Homo sapiens: one gene and its partners. The protein of the gene in region 4 purifies or fractionates together with the protein of the main gene of each other region. This does not show direct contact. Each region holds a gene or a part of one and is shown on either strand. Other genes may lie near its edges.

Region 1 (4,407 bases), about 25 Mb from region 4:
GCAGGCGGATCATGAGGTCAGGAGATTTGAGACCATCCTGGCTAACATGGTGAAACCCGATCTCTACTAAAAATACAAAAAATTAGCTGGGTGTGGTGGCATATGCCTGTAATCCCAGCTACTTGGGAGGCTGAGGCAGGAGACTCACTTGAACCCAGGAGGTGGAGGTTGCAGTGAGCTGAGATCGCGCCACTGCACTCCAGCCTGGCCTGGCAACAGAGCGAGACTGCATCTCAATAAATAAGTAAATTACTTACTTTCCTTTTATCCATCCTTTATGTTGGGGCATTATATTGATTTATTTGAAATTATGTGTGTAAGAGGGCCATATGGATTCCATTTCAGATGGTAAAGATGCACTACACATACTTGTATTGGGGGTGCATAGGGCCCACCTGGATTTATCTGAAAGGCAGCCTGGGGTTCAGTGCCAGGCCACCCAGGAGCTGATGCCCCTCAGCAAGTTGTTCCACCTTCTTTCTACTTTTCTCCTGTCCAGGGTACATTTCTTCCTGGCCTTTGCTGTCTTCTAAGGCACGCTGTGTGAGAAGGAGGAAAAAAGGGTCAGAAAAAACAAAAGCAATTGTGCAAATACTGTGTTCTTCTTAGAATGGTCATAATAACCTAACGTAGGCTCTGTGTAGGCTGGGCACGGTGGCTCATGCCTGTAATCTCAACACTTTAGGAGGCCAAAGCAGGTGAATCACTTGAGTTCAGGTGTTCGAGACCAGCCTGGTTAACATGGCAAGACCCCATTTCTACAAAAAGTGCAAAAACTAGCCGGGCGTGGTGGCACATTCCTGTGGTCCCAGCTATTTGGGAGGCTGAGGTGGGAGGATGGCTTGAGCCCGGTGGCGGAGGTTGCAATGAGCTGAGGTTGCACCACTGCACTCCATCCTGGGCGACAGAGACAGACTCTGTCTCAAAAAAAAAAAAAAAAGAGAAAGAAAAGAAAAAAAATATTAAACCTTAAACAAAAAAAAACCTAACAAGCCTATACACTGCTCTTACCCAGGCAAAATGGTTTTTAAGTATACAGTTCGGTGACATTAAGTACATTCACATAGTCGCACAGCTATCACCACCATCCATTTCCGGAACTCTTTTCATCTTCTCAGCTGAAACTCTGTACGCAGCAAACACTAACTCCACATTCCTCCCTCCCCCCACCCCAGCAACCACCATTCTACTCTCTGTCTCTATGGATTTGACAACTCTGGATACTTCATATAAATAGAATCATACAGCATTTGTCCTTTGTGACTGGCTTAATTCACTTAGCATAATGTCTTAAGGTTCATCCGTATTGTGGCATGTGTTAGAATTTCCTTATTTTTTTATTTTTATTTTTTGAGACGGAGTTTCACTCTTGTTGGCCAGGCTGGGGTGCAATGGTGCAAACTTGGCTCGCCATAACCTCTGCCTCCTGGGTTCAAGCGATTCTCCTGCCTCAGCCTCCTGAGTAGCTGGGATTACAGGCGTGCGTCACCATGCACGCCCGGCTAATTTTGTATTTTTAGTAGAGATGGGGTTTCCCCATGTTGATCAGGGTGGTCTCAAACTCCCGACCTCAGGTAATCTGCCCACCTTGGCCTCCCAGAGTGCTGGGATTACAGGCATGAGCCACCACGCCCGGCCATAATTTCCTTATTTTTAAGGCTGAGTGATATTCCATTGCATGCACACACTGCATTTTGTTTATTCATTCATCCATCCATGGACACTTGGCTTGCTTCCACCTTTTGGATATTGTGACAAATGCTGCTGTGAACACGGGTGACCAGTATCTCCTTTCAGTTTGTGTGTGTGTGTGTACGCACCCCAAGTGGACTTGCGGGATCATATGGTAATTCCCTGTTCAGTTGTTTGTGGAACCACCATGTTGTTTTCCACAGTGGCTGTAACATTTTACATTCCCACCAGCAGCCCGTGAAAGTTCTAGTTTCTCCACATCCTCGCCAACACTTGTTATTTTCTGAGTTGAGAATAGCCATCCTAATGGGTATGAAGTGGTATGGAAAGTCTTTTCAAGCATAATAGCAAAGAAAGAAATCATAAAGAAAAATGGCCAAATATAGCTACATAGTGTCTGTAAGTAAAAAAAAAAAGTAATCAAACTTAAAAGGCAACGGTAAACTGAGGAAGACATTTGTACTGTGTATGACAAGACGCCTAGCAGGGCATGGTGGGCTTTGGCAGGTCTGGTCTACACCTGCTCTTCTCCACCGGCTGTGTGCTTTGCAATACTCAATTTCTCCCAGCCTCAGTTGCCTTATCTTTAAAATGGGAATAATCATACATTCATTGGTTGTTTGAGGAGTAAGTAAGGTAATGTATGTAAAATATATGTTACATGGTAAGTCCTCCAAGAAGCCTGGCTGGTCTTCATTGTACCATCCCAGTTATCGTCTCTTTCAATTTAATATAAATAAGACAAATATATCAGGAGAAAAGTCTTGAGACGTAAGAAGTAGTTTATATGGCCAAAAAACAAATGGAAAAAAAAGAGATCATCCTCACTAATAGAGAATAATATAAATTGAACTACAGTCTTGTGATGCCTTCTTATAAAACTGTCAAAAGTTGTAAAAAAATGCTCTTTTCCAGTGAGGATAAGTGTGGCCAAATACTCTGCTGAAGAGTAAATGGATACAATTTTCTGTAAGGCATCTGGCAATGTGTAGCAAAAGCTCGTTGACCCAGAAATTTATCCTAAGGAAAAACATCAGAATTGCACACAAAGATTTATAAACAAACCTTATCAAAATGTTTCTTTATAATAGCAGAAAATTGCAATTAACTTGAATTTCTCCAAGCTGGCTAAAGAAATCATGGTGCATCCCTAGAGGGAATACTGCAGCAGCTGTTTCCAATCCTGTTCTCAGATAAGGCTGTGGGAAATTGCTCAATGCATGAAACAGGAAAGAGAAAGAAAATCACATATCAAGGATAATCCCATTTTGCATATCATGAGAAGCATACCAGCTAGGAAAAATAAACTGGAAGGAAATATATTAAAATGTTAATAGCATTTTCCTAGATGTTGAGATAGTGAATGGTTTAGATTTTCCAATTTTTATTTTGCTAGATTTGCCAAATTCTCCACAGTTTAACATGTAACACTTGCCCTTGACTCTGTCTGTGGATGAGTACAGTGATTGGGGGCGGGGGGCGTCCTTTGGACGTGGTCTCCAGGCTGCTCTTGTGGGTCCTGCTTCATCCAGCCCTCTGGCTCTTGTCCCCCACAGTGACCGATTAGCACTGCTCCAGGTCCGGGCTATCCTCCAGCAGCTAGGTCTGAATAGCACCTGCGATGACAGTATCCTCGTCAAGACAGTGTGCGGGGTGGTGTCCAGGAGGGCCGCACAGCTGTGTGGCGCAGGCATGGCTGCGGTTGTGGATAAGATCCGCGAGAACAGAGGACTGGACCGTCTGAATGTGACTGTGGGAGTGGACGGGACACTCTACAAGCTTCATCCACAGTGAGTGGGCCTTCCAGTTGGGATGCGCAGAGCTTGCTGGGATCCCTTTGGGTTAGGGGGTATCAGGGTGTGGTTTACGCTGGGGAAATGCCCTGCGGGAGCCCAGCCAGGCTGAAGGCTGTGCGTTCAGGAGCTGGGGATTGTCTAGGACAAGGTAATGAACAGTTTGTAGGGTTTGACTGGGATCCTTAGGGAGACAGAGAAGTGGCTTCACTTGGCCAGCTCACACCAGTGGCATGATGTGACCCTCACCCCACTCCTCCTGGTCCCCCTTAGGTGGGGGCTAGGCAGTGGGAGAGGAGGTGAGGGTGGGCGTGGGCTCACTCATAAGCCTGGTGAGCTGTAGCCAGGCCAGAGGCTCTGTTGGGTAAGTGGGGAGAGGATATTAAGAAAGGGGAGGAGCTGGGTGCAGTGGTTCACACCTGTAATCCAGCACTTTGGGAGGCCTAGGTGGGAGGACTGCTTCAGTCCAGGAGTTTGAGACCAGCCTAGGCAACATAGTGAGACCTTGTCTGTACAAAAAAATTTTGAAAATTAGCCAGGGATGGTGGTGAATGCCTGTAGTCCCAGCTACTCGGGAGGCTGAGGGAAGAGGATTGCTTGAGCCTGGGAGGTGGAGGTTGCAGTGAGCCCAGATCACGCCACTGTACTCCAGCCTGGGCAACAGAGTGAGACCCTATTTCAAAAAATAAAATAGGAAAGGAGGATAGCCACTCTCTTGTTCATCTGCTGAATCAGTTTGCTAAGACTTGGAAGGGCGGGAGCGGTTTGGGCCCTGGGCTTCATGGCAGGGAGGGGTAGGGAGTGGCCTCCCTCTGGTCAGGCATCTGACCCCCCATGCCAGAGAAGGACATGTGATTGCACTTGCTGTGTGATTGTGATCCACCGCATGTCTCACCTTATGAATAGGGTGACCATATTATTT
Region 2 (4,407 bases), on a different chromosome or scaffold from region 4:
TTTTCATCCTGCCAACAAATCTATGTTTTTAATACATTGATATCTTTGCCAGCGAAGACTTAAAAATACACGCACACAAACTGACAGTGGACGTACCCTCTGGACACGGATGCCTTGCAAAGCTGCCACTCTGCAAGGGGTTGGCTGGTTGCCACTGTTGCCGAGTCCAAGCTGCCCGTTTCCGTTGTAACCCCAGACATAGACCTGAGAGAAAATGAGACCCTCAATCCTCTCAAGAGACAAATGGCCAGCAAGCTGTCTGTTATGTGGGACATACCATACTGGCATGAGACTGATGTGGCAAACACGGTTTTTAAACAAGATGTAAAATAACTTCCTTACCTCCCCCGTGTCTACTACTGCCATGCAGCACATCTGCCCACATGCTATGGTCACAACTACTTTATTTTGTAGGCAGCCAGTGACTCTTCGAGGGATTGGCTGATTAACTGTTGATCCAGATCCTACCTGCCCAGAGTTATTATAACCCCAGGCAAATACCTGTTTAAAGGAAAGATCAGTAAATGAAACAGATTAATTTATAAACTGTCTCAACTGGACACTGACATGTACTTGTGGCACCGAGTCTTTCCTCTCAAAGTGCTTCACATTCATAAATCCTCACAACACAGGCAGAGAAGTGTTTATAAAATGCATTCTTATACAATGTACATGATTTTATACAATTAGGTTATTGGTGTTATCTATACAAACAGTAATAATTACTATTAAATAAAATGTAACACAAAAGTATCTACTTTGCCCCAGCCATCTTTTCCAGCATTTGGGGATTTTTCTTATTGCAAATAACCTCTTTACTACAGCAACAGAGAAGGAACAATACCTCCTTTTAAATTTTGCAATTATGGAAGACCTTACTACGTACAGGTAAATGTCACAACATCAACACCCTGACTGTGAATTGCTACCAAAAATAAGGCTGAATTTGAGGGAGGTGGTTATTTTAATCAAATGATTGTATTTCCAGGACTACTATAGAAGTCTACATAATCTTATTGAAAAAAATCAATGAGCTTTATGCTGACTGTTCTCACCTCTCCATCAGATGTTAGCACCAAAGAATGGTAAGACCCACAGGCAACTTCAATGACTTGTTTGTTTGACAGATTAGTAGAGATATGACAGGGCACTAAACCATGATTAGTTGTCCCATTGCCCAGCTGGCTATAAGCATTATGACCCCAGGTAAAGACTTCTCCTTCTGAAAATAAAAAGAAAGACAATCAGTTTTTTACAACATCTACTTCATTATACGAAAATATATGTAGCACAGCTTCCACAAATGAAATCTAAAAATTCAGGTGCAAAAAGCTAATCAACTTCCCCATTCCACCAAAGTCATTCTACAAAAGAATCTATTTGGAAAGTATAAACTGCATTCTACCTCAAAGCAACAAGGTGAAATTTAAATGCATGCAGTTATAATAACTGGAAAATAAGTTTTTAATAAAGAGCAGAGAAAAGGCTGCTGGGAGTAATAGCAAAAACATTAGAATGAAGTCAAATATTAGAAGGCCACTTAACTCCCCTAGGTCTTAATTTCCTTATCTTTAAAATAATCACCAAGTTGATTTTTAAAAATCTTTGTTATTATTTATTGGGTAGCATAATATACAGAAAAGTTAATAAAACATATATGTACAGTTTTACAAATTAGAAAGCACACACCCATGTACTACTACTTAAGTCAAGAAATATAACCTTATAATCACCCCCCAAAAGGCCCTCACATATGCATCTTGCATACAAATGTTTAGTTTTTCCTGTTTTTGAAATTTAAATAAATGGAATCATACAGTTTGTACTCATTTCATCTGTATTTTCCAGCATGTTGTCTCTTAGTGTTATATTCTGAATAGTGACTTCTCATTTATCTTCTGGTTTACTAATTTTACTAATTTGCTGTGTTCAAACTGCTACAAAATTTGTCCACTGAATTTTCATATTGATAATCATATTGTTCATTTGGATCTTTTCAAATCTTCTATAATCCCTGCAGATTATTTTCAAGCTCATTTTAATTTCTTCAAATAATAAATACAGCTGTCTTATAATTGGTGTCTGATAATTTTAATGCCTGATATTTAGTAATCCGTTCTTGCTGTCTGTTGTTTCTTCTGGTTCCCATTCATGGTACCTTGTTTCCTTGCATAGCAAGCCCCCCTTATCTGCAGGAGATACATTCTAAGACTCTCGTACTGAACCTGTATATACTGTTTTTCCCTATACGTATATACTTATGATAAAGTTTAATTTGTAAGTTAGGCATAGTAAGAGATTAACAACAATAACTAATAATCAAAGAGAACAATTACAAAATGTACTGTTCACAATGTCACAGATAGAAGATTTGTTCTTACCATAAATCTTAACAACCTCAGCATGGAAACTCTCCATTTTTCATTTAAAGCAAGAACCGTATGGTTTCTCTTTGGCATATCCAAATTGCAAGCATCACTACTCTTGCACTTTGGGGCCATTATTAAGTAAAATAAGGGTGACTTGAACACAAGCACTATGAAACCAAGAGAGTCAATCTAATAACTGAGACAGCTACTAAGTAACTAACGGGTGGGAGTGTCTATGGCAGAGATGCTGGACAAAGGGATGGTTCATGTCCCAGCTGGGATGGAGCAAGATGGTGAAATATCACCCTACTCAGAATGGCACACAATTTAAAACTTATGAATTGTTTATTTTGGAAATTTTACATTTATACTTTCAGACCACAGTCAACTGCAGGTAACTGAAACTTGAGAAAGTAAAACCAAGGATAACGGGAGACTACTGTATATCTGGTTATCTCTGACTATGTGCTGCCTATTGCCACTGAACAATTATTTTGGTTAATTCTCTCAGGCCTAGGATAAAGGTGCCTTCCCCTAGAAAGGATCTGCATTAACTTCTATCATGCCCTTAAGGCACTTGCCATCCAGTACCTTGAATAAATTCAAGGGTTGAGATTTCTTGGACCGTTCAGTCTTGATGTGAATTAAACTACAAATCCATGGTTACAACCTTTTGGGGAGAAGTTTTATTTATTTTCTTCCTTTTTTCCTCCTTGCTTCACTCAGAGCAAGGAATTTTTCTAGTCAATCCCTTATGAAGTGGCTAATCCCTACTACTAATGCCAACTACAGCCATCAGTCACTCTTTAGTGTAAGAATCACAGAATGCTAAGAGTTGGCGGGGGGATGTTGGACACAAGGTTTAGTCTTTCAATTCATAGATCAAGAATCCAAAGTTCAGACAGACTTGCCAAAGTCCACAATCAGTTCGTCAGTGTTTACTGGGCTTACAGCGTTGTCATTCATACATCTAAAATGCCAATGATTCCTAGATTCCATCTGCCACATCACCTTATGCTGGCATTCAGATACATTCATGTTTTATGGTATCCAAAACATAGTCAATTTCACAGGAAGAGCTAGCAACTCTCAACCAATTAAACAATGTTCTCAAGGGCAGCTGCGAATAAAGCTGAAATTCTACATGGGGTTCCTAGGTTACCTGTTGTTGCAAGGACAATATGTGGACCACTCCCATAGCTGAGGCAGGCTATTTTTTTGCCATTTAAAGAATCCAGTCTCCGAGGTTCAATGGTGCTCTGGACGTCACCTAACCCCAAACAGCCACAGCAGTTTGTGCCAAGCACAAAAATCTATGGGAAAAACCACTGTTAGTTCAAGCAGTTCTATTTCTAACAAATCTATAAATTACATCCAAACAGGAATCATCTTCCTTAAGCAAACTGCTTCTTTATATAATAAATAAAACCTAATTTCCATGCTTTTTTTTTTAACCTTTTATTCCTTAGTTCCCCCAAGATCTTCAATTTGGCAAATCCATTTCTAAAAATGTGAGTAGCTGATTTATTTTCTTCAAAATTACCTCATCATTTACTGTAGTGTATAAAACTTCATTGCCAGCACTGCCAAAGACACAAGCCTGACGAATTAACTGTAGTTCTTCTTCAGAACAAAGGGAAAAAATTGGCCACTTTCCCACATCTAACATCTTCAAAGATGACAGAGTAGCCTGTACTGGCTGAAAAGGAAAAAATATATGTTGAAATGACAAATTAAAAAGTGAATTTTCTCTGCCCCTTCAGTTCTGTAGAAGAGGGCGAACACTGGTTTTGGGAGGAACACACTGCATCCATTTTTGAGAGGCCTCTCGCAGCTGCAGGGATTGCCTCTGCCAGCTGCTTTTGGGCGGCTCACAGCCATCGAGCAGCGGAGGCCCGGATGGAACCAGGTCTCCCCTACTCATTGTCCTCAAGGACACAGGAGTCATCCAAAGCTGGGCTTCTGGGAACTGAATGTTCAGCAGATACTTTAAATATTGGCTATGTCTTAAAAGTAGCTGTGGAAACTAGGCTGGTTG
Region 3 (4,407 bases), on a different chromosome or scaffold from region 4:
GGGTTTTAACATCTGTGTCCTGCCACTTTGCTAGCCTAAATATGATTTTTAATGTATCTCAGCTTCAGTTTTCTCACCTGTTAAAAAAAAAACAATAACTTACAGCATTGTTGTAAGCTTAATAACCTGTATATATATATATTTTTAATTATCACTAGGATGGCAATATGTCTTAGTTTGTCTAGGATAATCCCACTTTAAACCTGCGGTTCAGGCATAATTATTAATAGTACCTTCTTTCATTCAAAAAGTCTCTTGGTTTAGGTGATAAATTACGTGATCATCCCATCATAGTGCCATGCGTAGAATTGTCATGTAAATGGCACTTTTACTCATTATTATTATTAATAGCTTGGCATTAATATGCTTAGTGGACCAAGTACAATCGGGCAATAAATATTTAATGAATGCCCACTATGTTTAAAGTGCTGTTCAGCTGATCTGCAAAGCTATGGCTGTAAAAACACCGAAGGGAATTTTAAGTATAATTAAAAGGAGATTGGAGAGTTAAGAAATAGTTGATGACAATGTGCTTCTTTATGCTTTTCTAGGCTTACCTTACAAATTTGAAGTACAGCAGATGTTAGAAGAACCTCAGTGGGGATTAGTATTTGAAAAGACAAGATGGATAATAGAAAAATACAGGCTCTCCCATAGGTATGTACTGTGGTTTGAGATGGTTGCACATCTGCAGTGTTGCTCATTAAATTATGTTTCAGAGAAAACCCAAGTTAAATATAAAATTGTGATGTATGGCATCCGTGATAGTTTATTATGAAACTGATTAGTTTATAGTATTCGTTTCACCAGTTTGTTTTCATATTTCTTCCTACAGCAGCGTCCCCATGGATAAAATCTTTCGCCGGGATTCTGACCTGACTTGTTTGCAGAAAGTAAGCTGTCTTCATTTTAATTGGTTCCATTGTTCACAGATTCTGAAGCTATTCATCTCAATGTGTTTTCCCATGATGCCTAATACTTTGTGGATAATTTTCTGTATATTTCTTTTATTACTTTTTCCTTTGGAAAATTAATTTCTAGGAGATAATTAGTAACGTTTTTTGTTGCCCAAGCTTGCACATAGAAAAAATTCTATTTTAGAATAAATTTGTCAGTGTTGGCTGATTTTAGCAGATTATTATTATACACAATGGAGAACATTTTTCTTATTTTATTAAATTTGAAAGTGCCATGTTTCCATTTTAGCCTTAACAATTGGTCATTTTTAAGAATGATGGTATAAATCTAACAATTAAATTTAAATAGTCATTTTATTTAACTTTCTAATAGGAAATAAGAGTTTTGAATTCTGTCAGTTCACGTCTAGGTTTTGCTTCTGTAATGATTGAAGGCTAGTAGATCTGCAACATTTGTCTTTTTAAATAGCAATTGGGGATAGAAAATTTAAACATTAAGTTTCTTTTTAATATGTTTTACTCCTTTCTGTTATATCCAGTTTTTTGTGTGTTGTTGAAAAAGTATGTGCACATTTCCAAGGAAATAGACTCCAGCTAGCATCCTCATTTTGAAATGCAGAATCCTATGTTTTTATGTACCTAGATTTTTGTGTGTGTGTATACTCAGGATTATTTTGCTTTGTAAGTGTAACTACAAATGGAGAAAAGTCGCAAATACGTCCGAAGTAGAAAGCATCACATAAACAATCTCAGGTTTGTCTCCTTATGTAAAATCATAAAAGTACTAAGCTGAGTGTTCCTCAGCAGCAATTTCCTACATTCCAGCTCTGTGACTATTAAACACAAGTTAATCTTCAACCATTTTTAAGGAGAGTGTTTCTCATTTGAGCATTAGGAAATGTGAGGTCTGGAAAGGGACGAAATAGTGATAGTAATGCAAACCCTCATACTTTTTCTGTATTTAAATATAAAACTTTTCTTTTCAACTAGCTTTTGGAGTGTATGAGGAAGACTCTGAGCAAAGTGACCAATTGCTTTATGGCTGAAGAATTCTTGACTGAAATAGAAAATTTGTTCCTTTCCAATTATAAAAGCAACCAAGAGAATGGAGTAACCGAAGAGAACTGTACAAAGGAATTGTTAATGTGATTATTTTAAAGTTAAGACATTTTAATCTTGACACAGTAGATCTTACTTTCAAAGTTATAAACTTGAAGTGATTGTAGTTAACATTGGCACAGCTTTGGTATTTTTTCTCTATTTCACAAAATCCAAACTTTGCCACATAAATCATGTGAAAAGGAAGAGATACAAATTTGTTTTCATATAGTGATTATCAGAGTGTTCTGCAAACCAGGGTCCACCACGGTGTTCTAGTCCTTTACTGAGCAATGCTGTAGGCTGTGAAACTAAGCAACCTGGTCGGCTTTACTGTTGTGTTCAGCTTGGGATTTGGACTATGTCTCTAAGTCATTTCTTCCCTGAACTAGTCATTTATGTTCCATTGTGGTATCTCCTATTTCATTTAAAAGCACTTCCATTCTTTCCATATATTCTGCTGAGATTTGTTTATGGCTATAAATGAGATATGGATGGGTGGTCACTGAGATAATTAATATGGTTTAGAACTACTGATTAATAAATCTAACAGGAGACCAGGAGAGGCATGACAAGAAAATCTTAAAAACAGGAAAAACCCAAAGGAGAGAACTAAATTACCAGTTTCTAATCATAGATACTATCTTCCATTTCATTGTATAGCAGTAGTATCATAAGATATGCCATTTTCTCAGCTATCTGAAAATTTTTAACCAATTTTACACACATAAAATAATTAGCTTCAATTGTGAGTCCACTTACATTAGTAGGTGTGATAAAACCTCATTTAACTGGAACATAGGTAATCATAACTCAAACTTTTTTTCTACTGCCTACTACTAGGAGAAAGAGGCAAATGATAATAAAGCTGGAATAAATCAGAGATTTAATTTTTAAAACAAGCCTTTCAGGACATGTTACATATTCAGCCCAGTTTCATATGCTTTCTGAATCTATAATGGAGGTCAGTGAACTTTTTTAATGTAAAGGGCCAGTTTGTAAATAATTTTGGCTTTTCAGGCCACATATGATGTCTATGAGACATTCTTCTTTGTGTGTGTGTGTGTGTGTGTGTGTGTGTGTGTGTGTTTTACAGCCCTTTAAAATGATAAAAACCATTGTTAACTCACAGGCCTCATAAAACATAGGCTGTTGGCTATTATTCTCCAACCCTTGATCTAGAGAATTTTAAACATTAGAATTTTGTTTTACATTTGTTAAGCTTTACGTCATCTTCAAATGACACCAAAACTCAGAATTATGATCTGCATTTAAGCCAATTTTAAAATAAAATAAGCAGTCAATGCTGCCTCATTTATTGAAATTCAGTAGATTTTAGTTTATTTCTTAGTAGTCAGAGAATTGATTTATAGCTATTCACCAAACATTCTTACTAACGTTTCCTTATATCTAAATCAGATTGATTCTATATTTTGCTTTGTTTGTAATCAATAGCCAATGAAGAATAAGGAGTATTGGAAGAAGCAGTGAGTCAGCTTTAGGTGACCTGGTTCTTGTCTCAACTTTGTGATTTGGGGAGATACAGTTTACTTTCCCTGAGCCTTAATTCTTGTGTAACTGAAGTCTAACTTAACTTCTTAATGTCCTTCCAGAACTAAAATTTTATTGTTCATTCTAATCGTTGGACTACTCTTGTGAAGTTTATATTTTGAGTTAATACAGTTTCCAAATTAACATACATTTAAAAAAAAAAGGGTAGTATTTTTCCATTTCTCTGTGTGCACTTAGGATAAACAGTGAAGTATAGCTTATAAAACAATTAGTTTGAGGGCTGAGAGTGTAAGAGGAACTATACCAAAAGTCAGGAAACCTGAGCTCTTACCCTAACTCTGTTACCAACTTTGCTGTGTGACCTTAATCAAAACACATAACCTGGACCCCATGCTCCTCACCAGTAAATCAAGGGCCTGAATTTTATGGCTTAGTATTCCCTTCCAAGCTCCGAAGTTGCGTGATTCTGTGAAAGGCAGTGATTGATTCCTTTGTACTCATCTTCCTTTTGACCTGTTTCCTCATGATATATTGGGGAACAAATACTAAAAAGTGTTTTATACTAGCTTTCTTGATTGACATTTCCCTATAATACTGATGAATTTGGGTGATGGAAAGTAATGGAAATTGTTAAAAGTTCTGCTCTCAAATCTGAGTCTCCTTGCCCTGTGTGCCAATGTTTAACCATATTTGCTAATCTAAGCCATATTGCGAGGATCTCAAGGATGATACTTGTCAAGAGTTTGGGGCCTTGAGAGCACAGTTTTCAAAATAATACTTAGTATTTTCTGACTATAGAGTACATTTGTCTTGTAAAGTATATTTTAAAATACAGAGAAGTGTGAAGTACAAATATCTCAGTGCTACTATTTAAAAAAAC
Region 4 (5,315 bases):
TGGCCTGGGCATTAATCTGACTGCAGCAGATACAGTTATCATTTATGATAGTGATTGGGTAAGTTGGAAGTATAGCAAGGAATATGCTGATTATATTTCCATTTTGAATTTTTTTTTTTTTTTGAAATGGAGTCTCACTCTGTTGCCCAGGCTGGAGTGCAGTGGCACGATCTCGGCTCACTGCAACCTTCACCTCCTGGGTTCAAGTGATTCTCTTGCCTCAGCCCCCTGAGTAGCTGTGACTATAGGTGTACACCACAATGCCTGGCTAATTTTTGTGTTTTTAGTAGAGACGGGGTTTTGCCATGTTGGCCAGGCTCTCTTGAATCCTGACCTCAGGTGATCCGCCCACCTCGGCCTCCCAAAGTGCTGGCATTACAGGCTTGAGCCACCACACCCAGCCTCCATTCTGAATTTTTTTTTTTTTTTTTTTTTGAGAAGGAGTTTTGCTCTTGTTGCCCAGGCTGGGATTAAGTGCTGGGATTACCAGCATGAGCCACCGCGCCCGGCCATTCTGAATTTTTAATTTTTAATGGTACATGTTACAAATTTACTTATCTATTTTGAAAAGATACCCATTTTCAGCTAAGAGTTATTTCTTCATAAAGTTTTTTGCAAGTAAAAATTGAAAATTTTTTTTTACTTTTGTTTTTAGTGACAGGGTCTCACTATCACCCAGGCTTGAGTGCAGTGGCACCATCACGGCTCAGTAGCCTTGACCTTTTGGATTCAAGTGATCCTCCCACCTCATTCTCTCAAGTAGCTGGGTCTATGGGTGTGCTACCATGCCCACAAAAAATGTAAAAATTAGTGAGACCACGTCTCACTGTTTGCCCACGCTGGTCTTGTATCCTCATATGATCCTCCTGCCTTGGCTTCCCAAAATGCTGAGATTATAGGAGTGAGTCATCGTGCCCATCCTGAAATGTTTTCTTTAGGGTATTTAAACTTTTTTGTTAATATTGTCAAGGATCTGTGGAATGATAATTTTGTCTATGAAGCCACTCTGGAAGTTTAAATTAAGACACCACTATTTAAAAGTTCCTGGCTAGATCATTCATGTTGACTTTATCCACATGAGTTTATGTTAATTTTAACCTAATACCGTTAAATATTATTTTTCTTTTTAACTTTAAGAACCCCCAGTCGGATCTTCAGGCCCAGGATAGATGTCATAGAATTGGTCAGACAAAGCCAGTTGTTGTTTATCGCCTTGTTACAGCAAATACTATCGATCAGAAAATTGTGGAAAGAGCAGCTGCTAAAAGGAAACTGGAAAAGTTGATCATCCATAAAAGTAAATAACACTTATGTAGTGCTTTATTGTTTAAATTGTGCATTGTGTGTTGTGGATTTTGTTTTTATTTTGTTTATAAAATATTACAGCCTGGGCCGAGTTCTGTGTCTCACACCTGTAATCCTAGTACTTTGGGATGCCAAGGTGAGTGGATCACGAGGTCAGGAGTTCGAGACCAGGCTGGCCAAGATGGTGAAACCGCGTCTCTACTAACAATACAAAAATTAGCTGGGCTCGGTGGCGGGCGCCTGTAATCCCAGCTACTCAGGAAGCTGAGGCAGGAGAATCGCTTGAACCCGGGAGGAGGAGGTTGCAGTGAGCCGAGATCGTGCCACTGCACTCTAGCCTGGGTAACAGAACAAGACTCTGTCTCAAAAAAAAAAATATTAACAGCCTGATATGACAGGATTTAAATAAGCAGTGGGGAATTTGGGAGCCTAAACTAAGTTGGTCACCATAGACATAAAAGAAAGAATGTTAGCGAGTATGTAGATATGTAGATGAAGAGCAGATGGGCAGAGAAAAGGGGTCAAGGATAACTACATGTTCCTGATAAGAGATTGGCTTGCTAAAAGTTTTAAGATAAATATTTTGCAAGTTCCATGTATTAAAATATTAAGTGTATTTAAGTGTTATAAAAAATCTATTTATTTATTGAACCCACTGTTTCACAGAATATTTCACTGCAGAATGCCCTTTTTATAGTTTTGGACACTTTTTTTTCCTTTTTCATTTCCTTATCATAACCAGATGGGTCTCAACAATGCTTTTTAATCTAGAAAAAATTCTGAGGAGGTGGGGAACTGACATAGGTGAAAAAGTTTTGTTCCTGAGATTCCTTAGAGAAGTTATACTTCTATCCATTCACCATAAAATTTTCTTTGAATAAATGGCTTGATAGCTACCTGAAGAAATGTTGAAAATCATTTATGTAAATCATCAAGCCCTAGAGAAATGGGAACATGATAATGTTAATGTGAAAAGTAATGTTGGAAATCACTAATAATTTATTTTATACTCCTTTTCCACTTGTAAATACTTTCTCTGGGTTTTGAGGTAAGAGTGTATTAAGGTTTAGACAAAATTAATTTGGTGAAACATTTAGATTGTAATTGGAACTTGCATTGGGGAAAAAGCATAATTTTTTTTTAAGAGACCATTTAACTTTTTTACCCAGGTTGTTCTCGAACACCTGGACTCAAGTGATCCTCCTGCCTTAGCCTCTTCAAGTGTTGGGCTTATAGGTGTGAGCCACTGTGCTCAGCCCTATTTTCGATTTTTTAGTAGATTAATTTTGTAGAAAATTTTGAAGGGATTTTTTTAAATGCTGACATTTTTCAGTTGAGTTATTACATACATACAGCAAAATGCACAGATCTTAAATGTACAGGTTAATGAAGTTTGACCAGATTTATGTACTCCTATGTAACTATCATCGAGATCAAGGTAGCATTTTCATCATCCAAGAAATTTTCTTTGTTCACCCTTTCCAGTAATTCCTATGCTCCCCTTACCATCACTAGGAAGCATCCAGTATTCTGATTTTTGTCACACTGATGAGTCTTTTTTCTGTTTAGCTATTTTGTTGAATATATTTTTTCAACACAGAGTCATCTGTGTTGTTTTTAGTAGAATTTTTTTCTTTTAATTGGTGAATAGTTTGTTTTTTCCATTCTCCTGTTGGTCGACATTTAAATTATTTCTAGATTCTGGTTATTATGAATAAGTTGGTCCTGTACAAGTCTTTGTGGACATAATGCATTTTTTGGTCCTTGATCTTAGGGAGGGTGCGTGTTTAACTACTGGAAACTACCAGCCTTTTCCAAAGTGGACATATCATTTTCCAGTCCTACCAGCGAAGCCTGAGAGCTTCATTTGCTTTTATTTTTTATCAACACTTTTTTTTGCCGTCCTTCTTAATGCAAGCCATTGTGATTGGTTTGTAATATGTTGTATTGTAGTTTTAAAAGGAATTTTAATGTTTTTAATTTCTCATTTTTTTTAGATCATTTCAAAGGTGGTCAGTCTGGATTAAATCTGTCTAAGAATTTCTTAGATCCTAAGGAATTAATGGAATTATTAAAATCTAGAGATTATGAAAGGTGAGTTTTTAATTTTAGAAAGATTTAATTTGTAGCTTTGAATTATTCACATAGACTTGAATATTTTGTTTTCTATAGGGAAATAAAAGGATCAAGAGAGAAGGTCATTAGTGATAAAGATCTAGAGTTGTTGTTAGATCGAAGTGATCTTATTGGTAAGTATTATGCTTTTTTTTAATGGAAGCTTCGAAACATACACTTAATTAGCATAATGTAATGAACCCCTTGTGCAATTCATTCAGCCACATGTATCCAATCTTGTTTTATTGTCATTTTTCTTCTTAGAGTATTAAAATCAAATCTCAGACATGACATTTTGCCCATAAATGTCATTATCTTTAACTTCTTCCATAATTCAGATATTTTCTGTAAACTGGTAAATAACACTTGTAAATGAATATATTCAAGTTCCTGTCTTAGTTAAGAATACCAGTGCTTTGTTCTCATATTTTTCGTCATACCAGGAGGCACATCGTATCTGGATTTCTTATTTCCAGTGAGCTAAGATTAATCAAGATAATGTTATAAAGTGTCTTGTCAGCCTTCATCCTTTACTTAACACGATGATTTATTTTATTTTATTTTATTTTTTTGGAGACAGAGTCTTGCCCTGTCGCCCAGGCTGGAGTGCGCTGACACGATCTCAGCTCACTGCAACCTCAGCCTCCTGGGTTCAAGGGATTCTCCTGCCTCAGCCTCCCTAGTAGCTAGTATTACAGTCGCCTGCCACCACACCTGGCTAATTTTTGTATCTTTAGTAGAGACAGGGTTTCGCCATGTTGGCCAGGCTGGTCTTGAACTCCTGATTTCAGGTGTTGTGCCCACCCCAGCCTCCCAAAGCACTGGGATTACAGGCATGAGCCACTGCACCAAGCCTAACGTGGTGATTTTTAGTATCCCTTGAAAGTGGCTGATAAGAACCATTATTAACTTAATCATTGCAAAATGGTGATTTTTCTTGTTCTGTCATTCTTTTATTAGCTGGGTTATTTAAGAACTTTCCCTTACAGTTTCCCTGAGATAGAAGAGAGCCAGGATATATTGCTTCTTTTTTTTTTTTTTATCAGTTTTTAGAATACCACCTTATGATCTGATGCCTACAGTGATGACCATGAATTATTTTGAAAACAAAAATAATATTTTGTACTTCATAATTTCCTAATTATTTTACAACATATTACTGTCGTCTAGGCTATTGATTATTTGTCTGTTGCATCTGTATGGTGGAGATACTGTATAATCTTTTTTTCCCAACTGTATTCCGTGACATTTTGGTCTTTTGAAATTGGTGATGGCAGTAACATTCATATCACGGATACAGGCAGAAACTAGAAACCCCAGTCTTTGTTTTTAACAAAAAAGGGTCTTGCTTTGTATTCCTGGCTAGAATGCAGGAGTGCGACTATAGCTCATTGCAGCCTAAAAGTCCTGGGCTCAAGGGATCCTCCAGCCTCAGCCTTTGGAGTAAGCTGGGATTATAGGCATGAGCCATTGTGCCTCAGTTTTTGTTTTTTTTGAGACCCAATTGTTAAACATTTACCTGCGTGGCACTGGCTACAGTGTCATGATATCTTATTTTCAAATATGTTGTTCATTTTAAAATTCAATTCTGTGTCTTATTGAATCAAAATAAAATATATTGGTTGGAAGTTTTTTTTTTTTTTTTTTTAATCAGATGTATTTTCCAAACATTTTCTTCTACTCTGGCCTGTCTCTTCACTTACTTACTTAGTATCTTCTGAAGAGCAAAAGTTTTAAATTTTAATGAATTTCAATTTTAACAAATTTTTTTCTGTTCACTCATGATTTTTATGTCATCTGTAACTACTCTTTGCCTAATTCAAGGTGTTGATATTTTCTTTTAATAGTTTTATAGTTTTTGCTCTTACATTTAGATCTATGATCTATTTTCAATG

Evidence for each region. The genes of interacting proteins can lie anywhere in the genome.
Region 1: the proteins of HELLS (region 4) and HK1 purify together in Homo sapiens (co-immunoprecipitation; one large-scale study listed by IntAct). This does not show direct contact.
Region 2: the proteins of HELLS (region 4) and RCBTB2 purify together in Homo sapiens (affinity purification with mass spectrometry; one large-scale study listed by BioGRID and IntAct). This does not show direct contact.
Region 3: the proteins of HELLS (region 4) and MYSM1 purify together in Homo sapiens (affinity purification with western blotting; one study listed by BioGRID). This does not show direct contact.

Annotation. Positions count from the first base shown.
Region 1 is NC_000010.11:69,395,347-69,399,753, forward strand, and holds part of HK1 (hexokinase-1), read left to right. Parts: intron 1-3,248; coding exon 3,249-3,482; intron 3,483-4,407. UniProt on the Homo sapiens protein: Catalyzes the phosphorylation of various hexoses, such as D-glucose, D-glucosamine, D-fructose, D-mannose and 2-deoxy-D-glucose, to hexose 6-phosphate (D-glucose 6-phosphate, D-glucosamine 6-phosphate, D-fructose 6-phosphate, D-mannose 6-phosphate and 2-deoxy-D-glucose 6-phosphate, respectively).
Region 2 is NC_000013.11:48,511,674-48,516,080, forward strand, and holds part of RCBTB2 (RCC1 and BTB domain-containing protein 2), read right to left. Parts: intron 4,069-4,407; coding exon 3,913-4,068; intron 3,683-3,912; coding exon 3,532-3,682; intron 1,223-3,531; coding exon 1,056-1,222; intron 502-1,055; coding exon 343-501; intron 205-342; coding exon 97-204; coding exon of another isoform or gene 4-96; exon of another isoform or gene 1-3.
Region 3 is NC_000001.11:58,657,656-58,662,062, reverse strand, and holds part of MYSM1 (deubiquitinase MYSM1), read left to right. Parts: intron 1-551; coding exon 552-657; intron 658-835; coding exon 836-893; intron 894-1,907; coding exon 1,908-2,066; 3' UTR 2,067-4,407. UniProt on the Homo sapiens protein: Metalloprotease with deubiquitinase activity that plays important regulator roles in hematopoietic stem cell function, blood cell production and immune response.
Region 4 is NC_000010.11:94,593,558-94,598,872, forward strand, and holds part of HELLS (lymphoid-specific helicase), read left to right. Parts: coding exon 1-58; intron 59-1,137; coding exon 1,138-1,297; intron 1,298-3,302; coding exon 3,303-3,399; intron 3,400-3,477; coding exon 3,478-3,554; intron 3,555-5,315. UniProt on the Homo sapiens protein: Plays an essential role in normal development and survival. Involved in regulation of the expansion or survival of lymphoid cells. Required for de novo or maintenance DNA methylation. May control silencing of the imprinted CDKN1C gene through DNA methylation.